4 linked regions of the Homo sapiens genome follow. The protein of the gene in region 1 interacts with the protein of each later gene in a pairwise test. Each region holds a gene or a part of one and is shown on either strand. Other genes may lie near its edges. The genes, in order: PID1, DNAAF6, NME1 and CPSF7.

The links.
Region 2: the proteins of PID1 (region 1) and DNAAF6 interact in binary tests that used the Homo sapiens proteins (3 or more experiments, as listed by UniProt).
Region 3: the proteins of PID1 (region 1) and NME1 interact in binary tests that used the Homo sapiens proteins (3 or more experiments, as listed by UniProt).
Region 4: the proteins of PID1 (region 1) and CPSF7 interact in binary tests that used the Homo sapiens proteins (3 or more experiments, as listed by UniProt).

Annotation. Positions count from the first base shown.
Region 1 is NC_000002.12:229,023,433-229,030,288, reverse strand, and holds the end of PID1 (PTB-containing, cubilin and LRP1-interacting protein), read left to right. Parts: intron 1-4,180; coding exon 4,181-4,657; 3' UTR 4,658-6,316; downstream 6,317-6,856. UniProt on the Homo sapiens protein: Increases proliferation of preadipocytes without affecting adipocytic differentiation.
Region 2 is NC_000023.11:107,216,604-107,223,644, forward strand, and holds part of DNAAF6 (dynein axonemal assembly factor 6), read left to right. Parts: intron 1-67; coding exon 68-140; intron 141-2,260; coding exon 2,261-2,366; intron 2,367-6,141; coding exon 6,142-6,238; intron 6,239-7,041. UniProt on the Homo sapiens protein: Plays a role in cytoplasmic pre-assembly of axonemal dynein.
Region 3 is NC_000017.11:51,156,518-51,162,668, reverse strand, and holds the end of NME1 (nucleoside diphosphate kinase A), read right to left. Parts: intron 2,690-6,151; coding exon 2,588-2,689; intron 1,510-2,587; coding exon 1,397-1,509; intron 942-1,396; coding exon 824-941; 3' UTR 501-823; downstream 1-500. Other genes in the region: NME1-NME2 protein, read right to left, coding at 1,397-1,509, 2,588-2,689. UniProt on the Homo sapiens protein: Major role in the synthesis of nucleoside triphosphates other than ATP. The ATP gamma phosphate is transferred to the NDP beta phosphate via a ping-pong mechanism, using a phosphorylated active-site intermediate.
Region 4 is NC_000011.10:61,402,221-61,406,008, reverse strand, and holds the end of CPSF7 (cleavage and polyadenylation specificity factor subunit 7), read left to right. Parts: intron 1-1,304; 3' UTR 1,305-3,280; downstream 3,281-3,788.

The sequences.
Region 1 (6,856 bases):
CCATTGAACAGTAACTCCTCATTCGTCCCTCCCCCAATCCCCCGGCAACCACAATTCTAATTGGTCTGTTTCTATGATGTTAACTACTCTAAATACTTCATACAAATAGAATCATACAGTACTTGTCTTTTTGTGGCTGGTGTATTTTACTTAGCATAATGTCATCAGAATTCATCCATGTTGTAGTATCTGTCAGAATTTGCTTCCTTTTTAAGGCTGAATAATATTCCAGTATACATTATACATATATACTGTATTTTGTTTATTCATTCATCTATCAACGGACACTTGGATTTCTTCTACTTTTTAGCTATTGTAAATAGTGCTGCTATAAACATGTGTACAATATCTCTTTGATATACATCTTTCAATTATTTGGGGTATATACCCAGAAGTGGAACTACAGAGTCATATAGTAATTCTACTTTTAATTGTTTTTTTTTTTTTTTGAGACGGAGTGTCACTCTGTCACCCAGGCTGGAGTGCAGTGATGTGATCTCAGCTCACTGCAACCTCTGCCTCCCGGTTTCAAGCGATTCTCCTGCCTCAGCCTTCTGAGTAGGTGGGATTACAGGTGCACACCATCATGCCTGGCTAATTTCTGTATTTTTAGTAGAGACGGAGTTTCATCATGTTAATCAGGCTGGTCTCGAACTCCTGACCTCGTGTTCCGCCCGCCTCTCCTTCCAAAGTGCTGGGATTACAAGCGTGAGCCACTGCGCCCGGCCTCTACTTTGAATTTTTTGGAGAACCGCCACGCTGTTTTCTACATGGTATAGAAATTGTACTGTTTTAAATTCCCACCGACAGGATACATGAATTCCAATTTTTCTTCATCCTTGCCAACACTTGTTATTTTCTGCTTTTTTGATAGCCGCCATCCTAACAGGTGCGAAGTGGTATTTAACTGTAGTTTTGGTTTGCATTTTTCTAAGGATGGTAGCATGTTTTCATGTTTTTTTTTTTTTTTGGCTTCAAAAAATATCTATTAATTTCCATTGCCCATTTTTTTTTTCCCCAGGGATTGACATACAGGAACTTTATTTTTTTAAAGCTTTTTTTCAACTTTTAGGTCCAGGGGTACAAGTGCAGGTTTGTTACATGGGTAAATTGCGTGTTGCCGAGGTTTGGTGTGTTAATGGTCCCGTTGCCCAGGTAGTGAGCATGATGCTTGGTAGGTAGTTTTCAACCCTCACCCCCGCAACCCTCCCCCTCCTGGTGGTCCCCAGTGTCTGTTGTTCCCATCTTTATGTCCATGTGTTCTCAATGTTTACTCCTACTTATAAGTGAGTAAGCAAGTGGTAGGAGTAGTCAGAGGGGTTCTTGTGTTGTGATAAGTGTATATAAATTGAGTGAGCCGCTTATTAGTAGAACTGATAATAGCCACTTATTAGTAGAACTGATAATAGGATAATAGGATGATGGCTAGGGTAACTTCGTATGAAATTGTTTGGGCAACAGCTCATAATACGCTCATTAGCGCATAGTTTGGATTGGATGCTGAGAACATGTGGCATTTGGTTTTCTGTTCCTGAATTCACTTCAGACAGTGGCCTCCAGCTATGTCCATGTTGTCGCAAAGGACGTGATTTTGTTCTTTTCATGGCTGCGTAGTATTTATACATGGTGTATATGTACCACATTTTCTTTATTCAGTCCACTGTGGATGCCTTTGCCCATTTTTAAGTTGGGTTTTTTGACTTTTTGTTGTTGACTTTTAGGTGTTCTGTATGTATTCCAGATATTAATTACTTATTACATATATGACTTGCAAATATTTTCTCCCATTGGATGGGCTGCCTTTTTAAATATGTTGACATTTTCTATTTATGCACAATTTATTTGGTGCGTAAACACCACAATTTATTTGCTGCCAAACGATCACAGATTGTCCACATGAGTGGCTGAGATAGTGACACGTTTGCTTTCTGATGGCTCAATTTACACGAACTTTGATGCATAAAGTGATTAAAAATATTGGGTAAAACTAATGGCTATGTGTATAAGGTATATATGAATCATAATCATAAATAAATTTCAGTTCAAACTTAGGTTATCTCCCCAAGATATCTCATTATGTATATGCAAGTATTCCAACATCTGAAAATAGCTGACATTTGAAATACTTCTGGTCCCAAGCATTTTATCTAAGGGATACTCACCCTGTATTGTTAGTTTTTGTCCTGCAATATTATTCCCTCTGCCTCCTCCTGTCCTTTCCCACTGCCTCTGTTCCTAATCCAGGCCACCCTTGCCCGCTGGCTGTGTCTCTGCTATCAGTCAGGCCTCCCCATCCACCTTTCTTCCTGGCATCAGGAAAGTCTGAGTTCACAGGCTCTATCACATCCAGGCACTCCTTGGACCTTGGCCCTTCAGTGGCATTCCAGAGGAGCAACGACGCCCCGATTCCTCAGACCACATGTGGGGCGATCCTGCAAAGGTCAGCCTATTTTTATCCAGAGGTCGTGGACCTCTTACACGGCTTCTGCTCCAGGGCTGTCTTAGGCTACCGCTTTACGTGTGCTCAGGTTAGCACAGCCTCTTTGTCCAAGCTGATTGAGACTTTCTCTACTACTTGCCTTTACTGTTTCCCTCCTCCTTTTTAGCACCTTGACTTGCTGGGCTCCTATGTAGTCTGAGGCCAATGTTTTGAAATCCAATGCCTCTTCCTGAGGCCTTCTGTCATCAGTATGCCACTGCCTCCTCCACTGAACACTCACAGTACTTTGCTGTTCCCCTTCCTGCCCTTTCCACGGCCTGCCTTACATCAGAGTCATAGCTGTGCAGGTGCCAAGGGTGAGAGTTTTGTCCTGGTGAACTGTGGAGCTAGGATTTAAACCTCAACTTCACCTGCCTCAAAGACTGTGCTCTGAATGAGTATTCAATTATTTCTTTCCCGTGGATATTCGGCCCTCCCCAGTTTCATAGCAATCCCCATGCCTATGTGTTATATTGCCATTGTGTATAAGAGGTTCCCAATAAATACTTCTGGAATGTATCACACTTACACATCTTTATTAAAAAGTTATTTTCTTAAAGGGACTACTCTTGTCACAAAGATACAATAGTCCTTAACTTCTGTGTTTTAATTTTTTATATGTGGCCTGTATTGTCCCACTAAATATAACCATTGTTTGGAATCATTCTGACCAAATGTCCCCTCTCAGTTCTCACGGTTTCCACGGACCCTCTTCTGGTCTTTCTCTCCTCGCATTCGTAGTATTTCTATTTGTGTCACTAATTTTAAATGTAAGTATATACTATTTCATATTATTTCTTAGATGATCTCTTAAGTTTTATGCCTTTCCATAATGCCTATGCCCCAATAATAGTAATTCTGTGCATTTTGTGGAATGAATAAAACAATGAAAGGATGAAAATCCCTTCTTGGCATATTATAAACACGCTTTTAAAAAGACAGTATTTGAATCGTTTGGAATTATTTTTCTTAGTTTTCATACTGCCTACCTAGCTAGGTGATAAGCCAGCATTCTACTCTTGATTCTTCTGTAGATCTTTCATTTATTATCAGATCAACAGATGCTCATCAGTTCAAAAACAGTTTAGGTTAAAAAAGAACTGGGCACTGCTGTTATTTTTAAAAATTATCTTGGGAAGGAAAACTATCATGCTTTAGGCCATAATTTCAAGAGAACAGTTTTTGCGTCCTTGGCATTAGAAGCAGGCAGCCTAAGTGAAATCAAACATTGAGAGATTTGGAAAGAGACCCAGGCTAGGAGATAAGTTTAATAAAGATTTTGTTTTTCCAACTCAGTGTCCTTTTGATTCCTTCCTATTATTCAATTCTGTGTGTGTTTGGCCGAAAATAAACTTTGAGTGACTTTATGATGTTAAAGGAATGCCAAATTATGTAAAAGATCATACTCTTCGTTTTAATTGGGGTTTAAAAAAGGAGTAAGGAGAGGGAGAGTAGTTCTCTAGAAATTAGATTTTAAAATCCAACTCTATTCAAATAATTTCAATACATTTGCCAAGTAGGCAACTCATTAGAGAGAAAAGGTAGAAATTTTGATGAGTTATTCTTTCAGGGAGCAAGAAAGAAGTGTCTTCACCTTCCCAATGTGACACCATGACTGTGTGGAACAGCTACTCATTCAGTCTATCAGAACAAAGAGCCTTCTGCTGATGCCTCCCTTTTCTTCCTCTCTTGCATCTGCAGGTTACCTACCTGGGCAAAGTCTCCACCACTGGCATGCAGTTTTTGTCAGGCTGCACAGAAAAGCCAGTCATTGAGCTCTGGAAGAAGCACACGCTAGCCCGAGAGGATGTCTTTCCGGCCAATGCCCTCCTGGAAATCCGGCCATTCCAAGTTTGGCTCCATCATCTCGACCACAAAGGGGAGGCCACAGTGCACATGGATACCTTCCAGGTGGCCCGCATCGCCTACTGCACCGCCGACCACAACGTGAGCCCCAACATCTTCGCCTGGGTCTACAGGGAGATCAATGATGACCTGTCCTACCAGATGGACTGCCACGCCGTGGAGTGCGAGAGCAAGCTCGAGGCCAAGAAACTGGCCCACGCCATGATGGAGGCCTTCAGGAAGACTTTCCACAGTATGAAGAGCGACGGGCGGATCCACAGCAACAGCTCCTCCGAAGAGGTTTCCCAGGAATTGGAATCCGATGATGGCTGAATGAACTTGAGACGCTTCAGCAAAGGCAGCATTGGTCACGGAGTTCAAGGGAATAGATGAGTAAGCAACGTTTCAAATTTGGGATGAAAAGACTGCCAAACTATTGGCTGACCAAGGTTTTTAAATTCAGAAGAGCAATTCTAAATCTAAAGAAATGTATCATTAAAGTAATTACGTTACATTGAAACCTGCTGCTGCTGTGACTGTGAGGAGGGTGGGAGTGTGGATGGGGAGGAAGGTTCTAGGCTCTCTTATTTTTCTCATTTCCCAATGCCTCTCTGTGGGAGAGCTCCATGCCAGTTTTCACCACGCTCAGGCAAATACTCTGCAGCTGTTATTGGATGGGCCATTCCGATCTGCCTTATGAAATTCCACAAGAATGTTAGGGGCACCTATGGGATCTCTAGTGGGGTGGGCAGGGTGCTGATGGGGACGCTGGCCGCAGGGAGGAAGGAACATCTCGGGAGGGCCCTCTGTTCCTCTCCCACGGCAGATGCCCTCCTCTGTATGCAAATCAGCACAGCCTTTATTGAGCTTTACAACTAACAACCTGATAGTTGGCAGTTAATTCACAGTTACAGATAATGCTTTTATTTACATAAATATACCAAGTAGTACCCTCTTATTGTATTCACTTCATCTATTTTCTTAGAATACTTGCAATTACTAATGACCCCTTCCCTTTCCCTCCTGCTGCCCTGTCCACCCTCTTTCCCCTTCTAACATCCTTAGAGGGATGAAATCTCAGCATATGTTGCAGGACACCAAAAGGAAGAAAACAATCAAGCAAATAAAATAAACAGTCAAACAAACCAGGAGTTTAAAACAACAACCCCAACAACAGAAGCCTTGGCAAAGAGGAATAAGTGATCAGCAAGTGAACACACTCTATGTCAACTCTCCTTTTATCCAGCTGAGATTTATGGTAACTTATTTAATTAATGGTCCTGTCTGATGCATCCTTGATGGCAAGCTTCAAATCTGATTTGGTATCACCGAGGAAACCTTGCCCCCATCACTCAGCATTGCACTTAGATACAGAATGAGTTAGATAAACTTGGCTTGTCTAGAGACCCATGTCATCTTAACCTAAAGGGAAATCTTATTGCGTTATCATAAAATTGATGATATCTTAGGGTCAGAATTGCCCTTTTTTTTTATTTTGAATGGGAAGTTCTCACTAAAACAATCCTGAGATTTCTTAATTTCATGGTTCTTTAAATATTATAAACACAGAGTCAACATAGAATGAAATTGTATTTGTTAAAATACACACATTGGAGGACAAGAGCAGATGACTACTTTTCGAAGTAATGCTGCTCCTTCCTAAAAGTCTGTTTTCAATCCTGGTAATATTAGGGGCACTGCGGCACCTAAGAAGCCTTAAATGAGAGCTAATCCAATCTAGAGAGCGATGGTGTCAGCATTTCGGTCTGCATATCTGTGTGTCCGTATCTGCGTTTGTGTGCGTGTACGTGTGCCCCTGTGTGTGGGCCCAGTTTTCAGGCATGTAGAATAAGCATGGAGTCATATTGAGGAGGACTCACTTCTTGAAGATATGCTTGTTGCTTTACAACATATGTAAGCTATTCTTTAGCATAAATGCATTCATTCTTTAATAAAAATATGTTTGCATTAATAAAGCTGAGGAGTTTCATACTTTGTGTCTGTCCTTTTTCAAGTAATAAAAACATGAAGAACAAATTAGATCAAATAGTTCTATCAAAAAATATATTTAAACTGGGTCATAAATAACCTATTCCTGGATTGCGTTTAAAAATCTTGTTTTATTTTCTAAATGCTCAATTTGTTTTTAATTTTTGCATGCCCCTGAGATGGTGAAGTGGCAATAGTTGAAATAGTTCTATAGTATGGTGGGTTTGTTTCAGTGCGGGGTCTTCCAGAACATGTTGCAAATGATTGCTATTTACAAAAATCTCGTGTATGTCTTTGAAGAACCTAGACTGAAATCCTGGAAGGTAAACACTGAGTGATTTTTTTTCTGATGGGACTGGTTAAAGAATGTCTCCTCCAGGCTATGATATCTCAGAATGGCCCCATTAAACAAGCAAGACAGGTGGCCATGGAGCCTATGTTTTTTGAGCAATGCCCTTCATGGAATCAATAACAAATATAAAGGCTTCCAAAGTAAAAATATAGGTGCCTGTTATAAAGAGATGAATTCAAGTGAGAATTGTA
Region 2 (7,041 bases), on another chromosome or scaffold:
GTATCACTAGTCATATAGGTTATACAAGTATTAATTACAGAATATTGAACTTTTTCTCCTCCCTCAGACAAATGGTTTATCTACTATTGGAGCCATGGGTCCTGGGAATATTGGACCACCCCAAATAGAAGAGCTCAAAGGTAAGTTATTTAACAAAGCAATATAGATCAATATAATCTTTTCCTTGGTAGAGAAATTATAGGGAGAGTAATAAGTACTAATACTAGTATTTATTAAGATGAACTAAATAACAATGTATTGTATACTTGGAAATTGCTAAGATAGTAGATTTTAAGTATTCTCATCACAAGTAAATGATAAGTAGGTGAGGTAATCCATATGTTAATCAGCTTGAGTTAGTCATCCACTGTGTATACATATTTCAGAACATCATATGGTATATCATAAATATATACAATTTTTATTTGTTCATTAAAAATGGAGAAATGAATAAATAATTTTTAAATAGAAAAAAGATGAACTAAAATAATCATGGAAATGATGAATAGCCATTTACATATAAAGATGCTGTTTTTACTCTACCACTGCAGGTAAATAGTTTTTCTAATAATGGAAATATATTTGCCTTGAATTATCCACATTCCTTGCATATTTTCTGAGATAGAAGACCAAGAAAGTCACGTGTGGTTAGATCATTTTTTATTTTTTAAGGTCTATTTACCAAGATGCTTAGCTTCTTTACCTTCTACCTTCCTATATTCTAGCAATTTCATGGAATTCATTCATTGAATTGTTTAATAAATATTTATTGAGAACCTATTGTATCAGGCAGTATGACCATCTCTGATACTACAATGCAGATCAAAACAGAAAAAGTCCCTGTTCTGATTGAGCTAATAGACTTTTGGAGAAGACAATAAAACAAATAACTACACAATTTTATCTTACATTAAGAGGCTTATACATTAACATCTTTGAGTTTACTTATAAAAAAAAGTCCAATAAATAAGGCTAAATAATATTTTTACATTTCCCCAGCATTTTGAGCTATACATTTTTACAGAGTTGAACATTTTACAAATCTTTAAAAATATAAAAGGCTCTAATTCTGTTGGTCATGATCACCATTAACCAGAGGATAGGAAGGGAGAGGAAGTGAATTTCATTCATCAATTTAGTTAATTGCAAAAGATTAATCTGGACAAATGTTTAAAATAATGGCTAAAATGAGGTCTAAGGATGGTTTTAAAATTTCAGTTATTATTGCTATACATACTCAAGAGGCTATTTGCCTTACCCAAGAGATATTCGCTCCATGGCAGTCTAATTCACATTTCATGTATTTCTGTGCTGCCTGTATTTCTGATAATGTAGGTCTAATAATCTTTAAATTCTGAAGGCAATGATTCATATGTAAAATGTTATATATAAATCTGTAGTTAGGCTTTACAAAGCCCGTGCTAGATAGAAGCTGATCATTTCAAAAGAATTGCCAGAATTGAAAACCTAACAATCGGGTGCATTTCTGGGAATGCTTAAAATGACTCAAAGCAGTGCTCTGCACCTAATGCAGGTCTCCACCGGATGCTACAATAGTTAAAACAAATGTGAGCTGGGTTTTTGCATGCCTACTGGAGCCTATCCATTTTTAAACATTTAAAGATGACATGCAGAAACCCAACCTCATGCTCAGCTCTGCATGAGGAAAATGCTGGACTAAAAAATGATCATTGTATCCACTGCTTTCAGTTTCTTTAATTGATATTATTGAGAATTATGTCATGCTTGCATGGAAAAGATATCAAAGCGTTTTTATATAGTAAAAACAATGCAAGATAAGACATTTCTCTCCACATCAGATTGATTGTAGTTGTAATTTTTTCTTTTATATAAAAATATTTTTAAATATAATCCTATTTATGTTTCTGGAAAAATGTGTAATATTTCTTTGCATATGTATATGGAGAGAGAGAGAGAGAGAGACTGGAATGATACACAACAGAATACTAACATTGATTATCTCCAGGCAGTTGGATTGTAGATTATTTTCTTCTTTTTGTTTATGTTTTTGCCAAATTCTCTACAGTTGTTATTAAAATTCTACAATGTATTGGTTCTGTATTGATAGAAACATTTAGTCAGTAGTTACTAATTTAGTTTGTTTTGATCAAAAAAAAAAGCTAGCGATTACAAATAATGTTTTATTTCAATGAACCCAAACTGAGTGTGAAGAAGAACAGGAGCAATTTAGAGAAGGAAAAAAGCATGAGCTTCAGCTTTATCTTCCCTTTCTTCACAGTCATCCCTGAAACCAGCGAGGAAAATAATGAGGACATCTGGAATTCAGAAGAGATTCCAGAAGGAGCAGAATATGATGATATGTGGGATGTTAGAGAAATCCCAGAGTAAGTCAAATGAAGCCAGGAATGTCTTTAGGAGTTTAAGTTAGCTGTGTCATCTGATAACATTTTACTTTTTACAAGATTCATAAAGTAACATACCACATAAAAGATAAAACTACAGTGACACACGGAAGGCATGTGTAATTGATTATTTTTTTCCTTCTAGAGCAGAAACAAATAATAAAGCATAACACCTTCCTTTCAGTTACTATCTAGCAAAAATGAAAAATATAGTCATTTCCATTATAAATTTATATTTAATGTCAATTTGTTGTATAATGTGGAACTAGCAGTTGGAGAAAGCCAGCCCATTAAATTGCAAGCATTCATACAAACTAAATTACAATGCCATGTTTATTTGTCAAGCACTTGCTTTTAATTACTCAATGTTCCACAATTTCGGTAAAAGGCTATGTTCTCTCTCCAATTATCAATTATTACCCAGACTTGTTTACTAGATATTCTAAGATTATATTTAGTGTTCAGTGTATTTTGCAAGCAGGGTTCAAGACTTGCTTTGTAGCCTTTTCAATACAATCAAGTTGTAAATATGAAATTTAGAATTATTATAAAAAGCCTTTTATTCTGATTTTAAAAGCACTCATACTTTTAAGAACCTTAAAATATATTTATATACATAGATTAAATTATTGGTCAAATAGACTAAGCTTTACATATGTGTATTTTGAAATAAAATTTGGATTGACTATTTAGAATAGCAGGAAAAATAAAGCCAACACTTACTAAATTATAATGTACTATATAAATTCTTAAAGACTTCTATGGCAAGTGATCTGACAACTTTTCTAATACTGAATACAAAACTATCCAGTATTTTTTTTTTTTTTTAGACAGAGTCTTGCTCTGTCGCCCAGGCTGGAGTGCAGTGGCACAATCTCTGCTCACTGCAACCTGCGCCCCTCCTGGGTTCAAGCAATTCTCCTGCCTCAGCCTCCCATGTAGCTGGAACTACAGGCACCTGCCACCACGCCCAGCTAATTTTTGTATTTTTAGTAGAGACGGGGTTTCACCATGTTGGCCAGGCTGGTCTGGAACTCCTGACCTCAGGCAATCCGCCCGCCTCAGCCTCCCAAAGTGCTAAGATTACAGGCATGAGCCACTGCGCCCAGCCAAAATTGTCCAGTATAAAACAAGCAAATAAACAAAAACTCCATGCTTCTGCCTTCTACATAAGTTCTGAAAACAGAAGCAGTGGGAGACTGCAGACAATTAACTAGAAAGAAGTATCCAGCTTTCAAATAAACAATGTCAAGACCATAAACCTCATAAAAAATCAAAGGAGATTTTAAAACATTTCTTAGAGAACGAAGAGAGTAAATTTGAAGTTATGTTTATATAGTGTCCACGTATCATATGAAAAGTAATAATTAAGTCACTTATTTGTCATATTGTCTAACAAATGTCAAATATCCATATGCAGCAAACTTCAAATTTGAGTAATTTTTCCCTTTTCATCCTGATGTTTGATGTTAGGTAGATAGAACATCCATGAAAGCTTTAAATGAATAATAACTTCAGGTTATTATGAGGAAAATTGCTTTATAAGATTTTAAAAATCTTCATCTTCTACCTTATGAAAATACATTTCAACATTTCTCAGTGGATGCAGAGGAAAATAGGTAAAGAACATGAACAGGCAGTTCAAAAAAGAAGAATCACAAGTGGCCAAGTAAAAGAATAACAAGGAGCTGAGCTAAGGCACTGGCCTTGGGGAGAAGTATGAGGGTCTTTATTTGAGTGAGTTTTGGATGAAGAGTTGGTATTTGGTTAGATAAAATGGATGAGAGGAGAGCGTCAAAGATGATGCTGAAGTTATTAGCTTGGGTGACTGAGGAAATGATAATGCCATTAACTTTGATAGGAATTATAGGTTAAGAAGAAGCAGTGAGTTTGTTTTTGTTTTCTTTCTTTCTCCCTTTCTTTCTTTCTTTCTTTCTTTCTTTCTTTCTTTCTTTCTTTCTTTCTTTCTTTTTCTTTCTTTCTTTCTTTCTTCCTTTTTTCTGAGACAGAGTCTTGCTCTGTCGCTCAGGCTGGAGTGCAGTGGTGTGATCTCGGCTCACTGCAACCTCTGCCTTCCGGGTTCAAGCGATTCTCCTGCCTCAGCCTCACAAGTAGCTGAGACTACAGGTGCATGCCACCAGGCCTGGCTAATGTTTTTTGTGTTTTTTGTAGAGACGAGGTTTCACCAAGTTGGCCAGGCTGGTCCTGAACTCCTGGCCTCAAGCAGTCCACCTGCCTCAGCCTCCCAAAGTGCTGGGATTACAGGCCTGAGCCACAGTGCCCAACCAAATTTGTTTTTTTTCTTCGCCAACCACCGCCCCCCCGGCCCCGCCCATTGTTCACTGCAGCCTCAACCTCCCGGGCTCAAGCAATTCTCCCACCTTACTCTCCCAAGTAGCTGGGACTACAGGTGCACACTTTATTTTTGTGAAGACTGCGTCTAACCGTGCTGCCCAGGCTGGTCTCAAACTCCTGGACTCAAGCAATCTTCCTGCCTCAGCCTCCCTAAGCACTAGATTACAGTTGAGAGCCACCATGACTAGCTGGTTTTTGATATGTACACTTTGAGTTGTCTTTGGGACATCCAGGCAAACCTTTGTAGTAGACAGTTGGAAAATTGCGTCTGGAGCTCAGGATAAGAGCAGGAGCTTGAGCAAATCCATTAGGAGCAATGAACATATAGATCAATCCTCTGTTTGTTTTAACCTGGCTTCACCTTCATAAATAATTGGTAGATGTTATAGCCTATTAAGAGAAAAGTGCCCCATAGCAAATAGCTGCTTATTGTTAGCCATGTTCAAACTCAGAGAAATCCCTTTTTTATTTTTGGGCATTCCTATTGGCAAATGGTCAGAAGTTCAATCAAGTCCTTTAGTCTTACTATCCAGAGATCTACAATTTCTTCATTAAGGTAGCATTAAGCATAATAATAATAATAATAATAATAATAATAATAATTTGTAAATATTTGTTTCATTCTATCTGAAGAGATGGGGTACCTTGTGGTGGGTGCTTCTATAAACCATTGTATTCCTGGAGGCCCAAATTTGGAGGGAGGAATGATTTGTGAATTGTCATGTGTGGGGTGAAATATCAGGAAAACCTTTCATTACACTCAGAATTCTGTAAGACTAGATTCTAAGCACTATGGTGTAGCTGTGCTGACTACATTACCAGTGTTTCTATTGTAGAATTTTAGCCGTGGAGATCATTCAGTTCAAACTCACCCCTCCCTCCCATAAATCATACAAATGTAGAAACTGAGACCCCATGAGTTTGTGACTTGACCAAGGTCCACAGTTAATGACAGAAACAGTACTAAACCTGAATTTTCTCCTCTGCTCTGTGGTTTAAACTTGGCAGAGGAAGGTTTCTATCAATCCCTAGGTTATGGACTCAGTATTTTTCTGAGCTATTGTTTTTCAGGAACAGACTTTCCTTTTTTTTCTTCTGCTTTTAATCTTATTAGAATCTTATTACAAGTTCCCTCAATCTATTTTATTTGTCTAGCTCTGAAACAGTTAAAGCTTTATTTTAGAAAATAATAACAATCCTGCCTTTCAGTGTTTATTTTGACCACATTTCTAGACTTCTTTTCCTTTATGTTCTATTATATGCCTGAAGACCTGCAAGCACTTTATTTGTTTAGTCCTTTTATTTTACCTAATAGCATATCCTCATAAGTTACTAGTTTTCTTTTCTGTGACAGGAAATTGCTCTTTCATCTGAGTCCCTATAATCATTGATTTTTTTTCAGGTATGAGATTATATTCAGACAGCAGGTGGGAACTGAAGATATATTTTTAGGGTTGTCAAAAAAGGACTCCTCAACAGGTTGTTGCAGTGAACTAGTGGTAAGCCTCTCCTCCCCTTCTTCATTTTCTATACAACCATTGTAGCTAAATTGACTGACTATTATTTACATAATATTGTAGGCAAGGTTGTAAACTCTTTAAAAATCGTGGTTGCTATGTTTCACGTACTAGGGTAACAATGGGATAGACAGTTTAAAATTGTTAACTTGTACAAAATAAACTAAGTTTACACATTTGGATGAGATTTACAAATAAACATAATGGAATCATATGACACAATACACAATTTCTATTTTTATCCCTATTAAAACTTCCCAATTGGATTGGACTGGATTTTCTTCCATCCTAGTTCCGTCCCATGCATGCCAACTGATTGGTTATTAACTTATGATGAATTGACAGGCAATCAGAATGAAGTATCTCCTTCCCCGCATCTGTCTTATCTCTTATTTCTGTATTTCTCGTAATGACTCAGCTTACAATGTGGGACTTAAAAAGGGATTTTCTTAATTTTGGGATCTGACTTCTGATTAAAAACACTAAGAAAGACATCTAAAATGTTACTTTGCTTTCTTATCTGAATGACGCTACCGAATGTTGGAGAGCATCCTTTACCAGGTCACTGTTTCTGTATAACAGTTGTGGCAATACCAACAATATCAATGATACCACCTTACTTTTGCTTATTTCATCCTGATAATGACCTTGTTGAAAAATCTGGGCCTAACCCAGAGTGTGGAATTTGATTCATTTTAGCAACATTAACAAGTAATTCTTGTGTTAAAATTTTATTTTTTGAGATCAGGAACTTTGCTTCTATTTTTTTTCCTCCTTTCTTACAA
Region 3 (6,151 bases), on another chromosome or scaffold:
CATGATCATGGTTCACTGCAGCCTTGGACTCCTGGGCACAATCCTCCTGCCTATGCCTTCCCAATAGCTAGGACTAGAGGTGCACAGCACCAGAGCTAATTTTTTTTTTTTTTTTTTGTAAAGACAGCGTCTTGCTATGTTGCCCACCCTGGACTTGAACTTCTGGCCTCTAGCGATTCTCCTCCTCAGCCTCCTGAATAGCTGGGATTAAAGGCATGAGCCATCGTACCCAGCCTAATTTTTCTTTTTTTTTTTTTAGTGAGACAGGGTCTTGCTATGTTACCCAGGCTGGTCTCCCATCTCAGCCTCCCAAGTAGCTGGTATCACAAGCACAAGCCAGCACACCCAGCCCTCATGTTTTCTTTCATTTCTGATGAATCCTCTGCACCTAGTCCAGTCTTGGCCACGTAGCACATGCTCCATAGATGCCTGTTGAATAGCTCAGTGCCAAGAGTGGAAGGGATGCGGGGGTTAAGAAGGGCAGGCAAAGAATGCCTGTGTGTATGTGAGACCTCAAAATAAATCATTTTTATAGTATTTACACTCTCTATTAGGTCAGGTTATTCAGTGTACATGAAAAGAAGGAAAAAAAAGCAATGCAACAATATGAAGTAACCAACTCAATGAATCCTATGCTGGGAGGAAGCATTTTAATCAGATGGTCGGGGATGGTAACACTGTACAGGGAGAACTCACAGCTCCAAGAGCTTCCCTCCAAATTATGATGAAGTTCCTGTAAATAACTAGATTTCCTACAGCCTGGTCCTCTGCCCATGGGAAGGAGGGGAAATGGATGTGAAAAGCAATGTGGTCTGCCCTCCTGTCATTCATAGATCCAGTTCTGAGCACAGCTCGTGTAATCTACCAGTTCCTCAGGGTGAAACCACAAGCCGATCTCCTTCTCTGCACTCTCCACAGAATCACTGCCATGTATAATGTTCCTGGGTGGAGAAAGAGATAGTCACATGACCAAGACCAGAAGGATTAAAATGCGCCCATTGCCAGAAATCTACAGCCACAGCAGCATAAAAGCTGAAGCTCCATGGACATTAGACCATGTTAAAAGAAAAAGCCTACAATGGCCATTCACTTAAGGCTGAAAAATGCCCTCCCCACATCCAGCCCTCCCGGCCACGCTGGTGCAAACAGTGAGAGCCTTCAGGAAAGACTGGCCAGCAAAGTGTGTTGTACCAGGTTCTACACTTCGTGTAACAGAGGTACGACTAAGTGATGTTAACAACCAAAGCCAAACGCCAACTTAAGAGGGAGGAAAACAATAAACTCCGATAAAATCAACCTGCATATGGTATCATGTCTACCTCCAGCCTCGGAAACCCAAATCCTTGTGGCAACTAAATCAGATTTTGGAAAAGGGGGAAAAATACCAAAATCTCACCTGCCAACTTGTATGCAGAAGTCTCCACGGATGGTCCCAGGCTTGGAGTCTGCAGGGTTGGTCTCCCCGAGCATGACTCGGCCCGTCTTCACCACATTCAGCCCCTCCCAGACCTCCAAGGACAGAAGAAGATATGGTCAAAGAAGAAAACCAATCACAGCAGAAAATCTGGCAACTATTAATTCAAAAAAGGAAAAATAAAAAGGCCCCTTAAGATTATATTCATTCACTGAACAAATGTTTATAGAGTATATCCACTTATTCCAGCACTGAGGATCCTGATCTCCCTGCCCTCATGCTTGCCTTTCTACAATGTATTCTCCATACAGCAACCAGAGCAGCCTCCTTAAAATGCCAAGTGTGGGCAGGGCGCAGTGGCTCACGCCTGTAATCCCAGCCCTTTGGGAGGCTGAGGGGAGTGGATCACGAGGTCAGGAGATCGAGACCATCCTGGCTAACATGGTGAAACCCTGTCTCTACTAAAAATACGAAAAGATTAGCTGGGCGTGGTGGCGGGCGCCTGTAGTCCCAGCTACTCAGGAGGCTAAGGCAGGAGAATGGCGTGAACCCGGGAGGTGGAGCTTGCGGTGAGACGAGATGGCACCACTGCACTCCAGCCTGGGCAACAGAGCAAGACTCCGTCTCAAAAAAAAAAAAAAAAAGAAATGCCAAGTGTGAAGTGTCCCATAGCTTCCCAGCACTCAGGAAGTATATGGTCAACACACCCCTAAGAGAGAAGGCCCCTGCCCATGCCTCTGAACTCTTCACCTCCCAACTTCCCTCCCACCCATCAGGCTTCGGGCATTTCAACTCTCCTCCCGTACTTCAAAAAGCCAAGCTCATTCCCACCCTGGGACCTTTGCACATGCTGTTTGCTTGGCTGGAAATGTTTTTCACTGTGATTCTGTACATGGCTGGCTGCTTCTTGTCATTCAGATCGCTGCTTCTTGTCATTCAGATCACAGCTTAAAAATTGCGTTCTTTGATCACCCAATCTAAAGTGATCATTTGCTACTCCTATTCATTTCTGGGCATATTTCATTTCTGAAGCCTATCACTAACCATTAGCTGGTATATGAAAACAGGTATCTATTTGGTCTCATTCATGGCTGTATCCCCAGTGTCTAGAAGAGAGCCTAGCACAGATGACAAGCAATGCATACTTGGAGTATCCCACACAGGCACACTCACCATGGCAACTACCGGCCCTGAGTGCATGTATTTCACCAGGCCGGCAAAGAATGGACGGTCCTTCAGGTCAACGTAGTGTTCCTTGAGAAGATCTTCGGAAGCCTATTCAACAGGACAGAGAATGAGAATAACCCCCAAACCATCTAAGGACATATAATCCATTTAATTTCCCCTCATCCACCCTGCTATGTAAAACATGAGCGGTTGGGCTCACTGATTCTGTTATAACCCAATTCATTCTCCACACTGGAAGGGAGCAGTGACAGGACTAAATGTACTTCTCCAATTTTATATCAGTTGTCTCCCTATTGGCACTGACTGATAATAAAACCACAGAACATTAAAATTAAATCCAGCTATCTCATTTAAAAAAAAATCAAACTCCTGGGCTCAAGTGATCCTCCTGCCTCAGACTCCCGAGTAGGTAGGACTGTAGACACACACTACCAGACTTGGCTAATTTTATTTATTTATTTATTTATTTTGAGACAGAGTCTCCCTCTGTCACCCAGGCTGGAGTGCAGTGGCGTGATCCTGACTTACTGCAACCTCCACCTCCTGGGTTCAAGTGATTCTCCTGCCTCAGCCTCCCAAGTAGCTGGGATTACAGGTGGCGGCCATCATGCCTGGCCAATTTTTGTATTTTTAGTAGAAACAGGGTTTCGCCATGTTGGCCAGGCTGGTCTCAGGTGACCGCAGGTGATCTGCCTGCCTTGGCCTCCCAAAGGGCCGGGACTACGGGCGTAAGCCACCGCGCCCAGCCATACCTGGCTAATTTTAAAAAATTATTTGTAGAGATAGGGTCTCACTATGTTGCCCAGGCTGGTCTCAAACTCCTGGACTCAAGTGATCCTCCAGCCTCCGCCTCCCAAAGTGCTGGGCTTACAGGCGTGACCCACCATGCCTGGCCCTCAACTATCTCATTTTAGACAGGAAAATCAACAATACAATAAATTTCCATTCCCAGAGCAAACCCCAAATAAAATGTTAGAAGGACACCAGGAAGCAAGTCTTGGCATTTAATGAGCAGCAAACTAAACCAGGCCATTACCCAGGGATGCTTCACGTTTATTCAGAGGATAAAAGCCCAGCAGTGATGACCATGTGATTACCAAAGGTATCTGCAAATCACCCAAAAGTGCATGACATCTAGTAATAAATAATTTTGCTGAAAAATGAATTAGAACCTCTCATACTGCAAGGCTAATATGTGGGAACGAATCAAGTTAGCTAGAGAACAAACCATCTGCTTAGCAGTTTCAACTCAGTTTGGCTGTGTTCTCTCTTGTACTGCATATACGCTTGTTAAAATCTAACAGGGTCCCATGGTTTTTCCAGCTCTGTGGTACTGCACTGTATGACGCATATCACACACATCAGAGACACACACAGATGTGGAGACTGGCTGCCCAGAAGCCCCATCATTCAGCCACCAGTTATCATCACTTGCCAAAGTAAAATTACATGGCCATATAATCACTCCGTGGTAGGGATCCAACCCTCGCCCTGTCCTTTCCTATCCAAATGGAAGACTTTTGTTGTGGAAGTCTAACAGACCCTGAGGTGACCTTCCCTTATCAGAATACTTTTTTAATTCTATTAATTGGTTCCAATTATCTTTTTGTTGGTTTTGTTGTTTGTTTTGAGACAGGGTCTTTCTGTCACCCAGGCTGGAGTGCAATGGCATGATCATAGCTCACTGCGGCCTCAAACTCCCAGGCTCAAGCAATCCTCTTGCCTCAGATTCTCAGTAGCTAGGACTACAGGTGTGCACCACTACACCCGGCTAATTATCTTTTTTTGAGACAGGGTCTTGCTCTGTTACCCAGGCTGGAGTGCAGTGGCTCGATCTCCGCTCACTGCAACCTCCACCTCCCGAGTTCAAGCCATCCTCTCGCCTCAGCCTCCCTGGTAGCTGGGACTACAGGCATGCGCCATCACACCCAGCTAAATTTTGTATTTTTAGTAGAGACGGGGTTTCACCACGTTGGCCAGGCTGGTCTCCATCTCCTGACCTCAGATGATCCACCCACCTTGACCTCCCAAAATGCTGGGATTACAGGTGTGAGCCACCACGCCAGGCCCTAACTGATTATCTTTAGTCTGCAAAACAGATCACGGGCTTTTTTTAAGGGCTTGGGGGTTGGGAACCTCAAGTTCTCCCTTGCTTCCTGCCTCCACACCAGATTTAAATGCCCCTTTAGAGTCATGGCAGCTATCCTTCCGTCCATTCTTCACCAAACCCATATATCCTTAATAGGAAATTCAATGTAAAGGAGAAAGTATCTGCACTCAGGGGTCAGAGAGACTCAAGTTAAAATTCCAGTGGCATCACTGTATGCTATCAGGCACATCACTGAACCTCTCCAAGCCTTAGGTTGCTCATCACTAACAACCACGAGAACAGGAGTAAGTACTTCTCAAGGCTGGCATGAAGACTAAATCAGAAAACATATGTGCCCAGCATATGGTAAATGCCTGATCAACAACACATCCATCTCATGTTACCTTCTGCTGTGATCTGAATGTGTCCCCCAAAGTTCGTATGTTGGAAATTTAATCCTCGATGCAACAATGTTGGGAGGTGAGGCCTAATGGGAGGTGTTTAGGTCATGAGGGCTTCACCCTCATGAACAGATTAATGTCTTATCTCAGGAGTGGGTTTGTTATAAAATCAACATCAGCCCCCTCTTGCTCTCTCTCACTCTTGCACTCTCTTGCTATTCCATTCTGTCATGGGATGATACAGCAAGAAAACCTTCATTAGATGCCAGCTCCTTGACCTTGGACACCATATTCTCCTCTCAGCATGAACATCAGTCTACCCTCTTTTACATTAAAGCAGTTTTTCTTTTCTTTTTTTTCTTTTTTTTTGGAGACGGAGCCTCCCAAAGTGCTGGGATGACAGGCGAGTCACTGTGCCAGCCCTAAAGCAGTTTTTCTAAAATATCACATAGGAAGTAAATTGCAAGTCAAACTAAATTTTAAAATGCACTAGAAGGGTCCAAAATTGATTCCCTTTTAGAAAACATACTATCCCCTATTTGATTTGAGAATTGGAATTCTTTTTTTTTTTTTGAGACAGAGTCTCCCTCCCTCTGTTGCCCAGGCTGCAGTGTGGTGCAATATCGGCTCACTGAAACCTCCGCCTCCTGGGTTCAAAAGCAATTCTTTTTTTTTTTTTTTTTTGGAGATGGAGTTTTGCTCTTGTTGCACAGGCTGGAGTGCAATGATGCGATCTCGGTCACTGCAACCTCCACCTCCCCAGTTCAAGCGATTCTCCTGTCTCAGCCTCCCGAGTAGCTGGGATTACAGGCGCATGCCACCACGCCTGGCTAATTTTTGTATTTTTAGTAGAGACGGGGTTTCATCATATTGGTCAGGCTGTCTCGAACTCCTGACCTCAGGTGATCCGCCCGCCTCAGCCTCCCAAAATGCTAGGATTACAGGTATGAGCCACCGCACCTGGCTGGTTCAAGCAATTCTTATGTCTCAGCCTGCCGAATAGCTGGGATTACAGGCACCCACCCTGATGCCCAGCTAATTTTTGTATTTTTAGTAGAG
Region 4 (3,788 bases), on another chromosome or scaffold:
TCCTGTCCTCGTTATCCATTGAAAACTGAGCTTTCTCTTCAATTTGGATCGAATTCAAAGATTCAGAAGCCCTAATGGTATGTAATTGAGTGCACTGAGGGCTTCAGTTTTCCCTTAGAGAAAATGGGACAAATACCAGCCTGCGTAGGTGTTTAGACAGGCCAGGAAGGCTTAGGCCATATAGATTCTGAGGACCCAAGCTGAAAATAGTGTCATTTCGGTGTGTACAAGGATCAGGGAGGACGTAGATGTCTCCTCTAGGTTTTATAAGGCCACTTTACAGAAGTAGTTATATAAAAGGTAAACATTTGTGCGTAGGCTGTGTTGCCAGTTTGGGCATTAGGAGAAATTCTAATTCCTCATTTTCCCTTTGGCTATTAATTCTGTTTAATATGCTCAGACTGACCATACCACCACCCGCAGATGGGTATTGCAGCATTGGAACAGGTGCTGAGTATAGTAGGAACTTTGTTTGGTGGCCATGTGACAGGTGGCTTAATAGACCCTTTTGGGTAAAACTTCTTAACTGCATTTAGGTTTCTTCCATGCTCTGCTTTCTGTTCTGGCCTGGCCACGTGACTCCTGCTTAGTGTTAGTATGTTTCCTGGTTCCTCACCTATGGCTGTCATGCGAGGAAAGACTTAAAATCTCGAGTTTTAGTACACTTGGAAAACCTCTGGGGCTGTGTTTGTGTACACACATACTCATAAAGGCACTTTTAGCCAGGACTCCTTTAAAAAGAAAAAAGAAGGATTTAAGAGTTTCCTGTGTATGTGCATCCTGCCTGCTAGGGCCTCTTGGGTGTTTGGGGATTAATGGATTTGGTTGTGTACATACTTGTTTTCTTACCACTAAACCTCCCATTTCCAGATTTTTCCCCCTCCCCTTAAGGTAAGCTATGACTTGCACAGAATAGACTTCTTAACCTATATTTAAACTCACCTTATTCCCTTTTAGCAACTTTTCTTGAAATATGTCACAGTTTCCATACTTTTGCAGCCAAAGTCTCCTTTTCAGTCGAACGTTCAGAGACCTCATTTTGTTCTGTTTTTTCACCGAATCTTTATAGTGGATGTCACTGCTTTTTTTCTCTCTACTCACAGTAGCTTCTCCTCCAGCCATTCCTCACCACTTCTAGTGTCAGACAGTCCTGCTTTGTTTTCCCAGACTTGCATTCTCTGTCTGCATTCCTTACTTCTTATGTTGTAGCGTTAGAATATGTGTGTTTTATATAAGCCCCTGTCATTCAGAAAGTAACCTCTAACTTGTGTTTTCTTTCTTTTCTTCTGATGTTCTCATTGCAGGAGTCTGGTTGGAAGCAAATGTTTTTTTAATGGACTTGCATCTCCTCACCTTGATCAGGACTAAAGGACGGAGGCCGCCCCACCCCCTTCCCTTTCCTCCAAACCCCTAACTCCCTCCAGACACCCAGGGAATACCCTCTGCCCCACAGGATTGAAGACTGCTTGGCAGTCCTCCCAATCCCACACCTCCTGTTTGCCAGGGGAAAGAACCTAAAGACTTCGTGTGATTGGGAGGGGTGGCAGACAGGAAGAAAACATGTCCAGGCCCCTGGTCTCCATAGAGAATGGTGCTTTGTCCAAGAAAACGTATGAGTTTCTGATTCTCCGGGAGCCGTTCAATGGTGAGGTTGATGGGAAGACTTCCTTCCCAAAGAAAATAGATCCTCCATGCAGGATCTAGGAGAGTGACTGGGTGTGCCAAAATATGCCCAGGGTCCTGCCCTCAGCACTAGATTTAATGGGGCCAAGAGGGTCCAAACCCCTTGCTAACATACCACTTCTTTGTTTAACTCCTTTACCTTTCCAGCCCTTTGAGGAGGGACCATGAGAACAGAAATTACCTTATGAAAAGCTACTTCTGTTCCTGCTTTCCCTCTCACGTATTGACGGTTTATTTCTTTGACCTCCCAGAGGGCTGAACTCTTTCAACTCTGCGCTGCCCAGCCTTCTCAGTGGACTTGCCCCTCCTAAGCAGAGAAGGCCTATGAGGTTGCTTGCTGCTGGGAAGCCTGGCAGAGCCAATTACCACCCTCTGCTGCTTAGTGCTTGGGTACCTCTTGCAATAACCAGCTCTTAGTTGTTCCCTTTCCCTGGGGCTTTTCCATTTAACACATGGAGCCCTTCCCCCAGAAGGCTACTTCCTTGTTTTAGAGGAAGGTACTGCCCATTGGGAGATGGGGACATTGGGACCTCAGCAATGAAGAACCCTTGTGAAGTAACCAGGAGGAATGGGGAAAGAAGCAAGTTGGGCAGGATATGGCCTACTTCCATAGGCTTTTCTTTTTTCAGGTTTGATGTAAGCATGGGCTTACATCCCCCAGGTACATACTTTTACTTATTGTGGGATAACCTGGCACTAGTAGGCAGGTAAAGTCACAAATTTGGTGTCTTTTCACCTTTTGACTGTTGACTTAATAGCTCCTCTCACTCTGCCTGGAGATACTTCCTGCCTCAGATGAGGAGCCAGAAGAAACAGAGCCCGACTTGAATGAACTCAGCTCAGAGTTCTAAGGACCAGCATTCTGGGGGCCATTTTCTCTACAGGCAAATGGAATTGCTTTTCCATAACATCCAAATTGTAATGTGGTTGCTGCTGAAGGAGGAGGCAGCAGCGAGGTCCTGCGGTACCCATGGGGTGATGCTACTTCTGCATGCATCTACAGGGCATCTGACACCTAACATGAGACGTGGCATGTGAGATGAGACTTGGCATGTGAGACATAGGGTCACTAGAGACCCTTCTGGGTCAGAGGAGAGAGACTGAATTGGACTAAACCCGTCCTCTGTTCCCAGCACGTTTCTCATATAGCCCTCAGTCACTGAGGGAGTCCCCCGCAGGATTGGAGAGGCACATTCCCTTGGGACAGAGGCTACAGGTTGGAGCTTTTTTTCCCCTGTCCCCCAACCCCATCCCCACCTCCACTTCAGAACATGGCACCCCACCCAACTGGCCAAGTGTTAAGTGATGTGCTTATTGAGAGCAACTCCGGGTGTCTTTTAAAATGTAGAGAAAAGGTGACAGTTTAAGGAAAAATATATATAGAATACCAGAAATGCCGTTTACCCGGAGAATTTTTTTCTCCCCATTTGTTTTGTTTTTACTCAATGACACCATTTTTAGTTTTATTTCCTGATAGCAAAAGGAAAAAAAACACCCATCCCTCAAAAAGGCCAAGGTCCCGTCCCCCTGTTGTCGGTGATTTGTTTGTCTTTCTGATAGGTTGAAAATTGTGTAATAAACTTGATGACGCTGTCAATCTTTTATACTGCATTGTATTTTTTTCCTTTTGTAACAAAATATTTTTAAATAATAAATGGGGTGTGAGCTGTTTTATGGATTCTGCATTGAATAGATTTGTTGAGGTGTCTGGGGCATGGGCATGGGCTGATGTAGACACTCGAATGATGGTGAAATGCCAAGTTCTTAGCTAGGATTGCATGTCAGGCAGTGATACATGGCTTTAGTTGACTGTGGAAAGCCTCCTAAGAGACCTCTAATGCAAACCTTTGGAGGCATCCCTTAAGGTTTAGCTTTTTTCCTTGGCCATCTAAACAGCTGGTTAAAGAAAACTTCTAAGTTATCCTTTACCCTTCAAGATTCCTAAGACTTATTTTCAGAGCAAATGTTCTACCTTGTGCAGTTAAATTCCAGTATCAAGTTCAGGAAGGGAAGAATCCTTTGATAGGAGTTAGAAGATCTGACTGGTAGTGCCTAGTTTACCACCTGTTTATCTAAATATGGACAAGCAGTGTAACCCTGGTCTT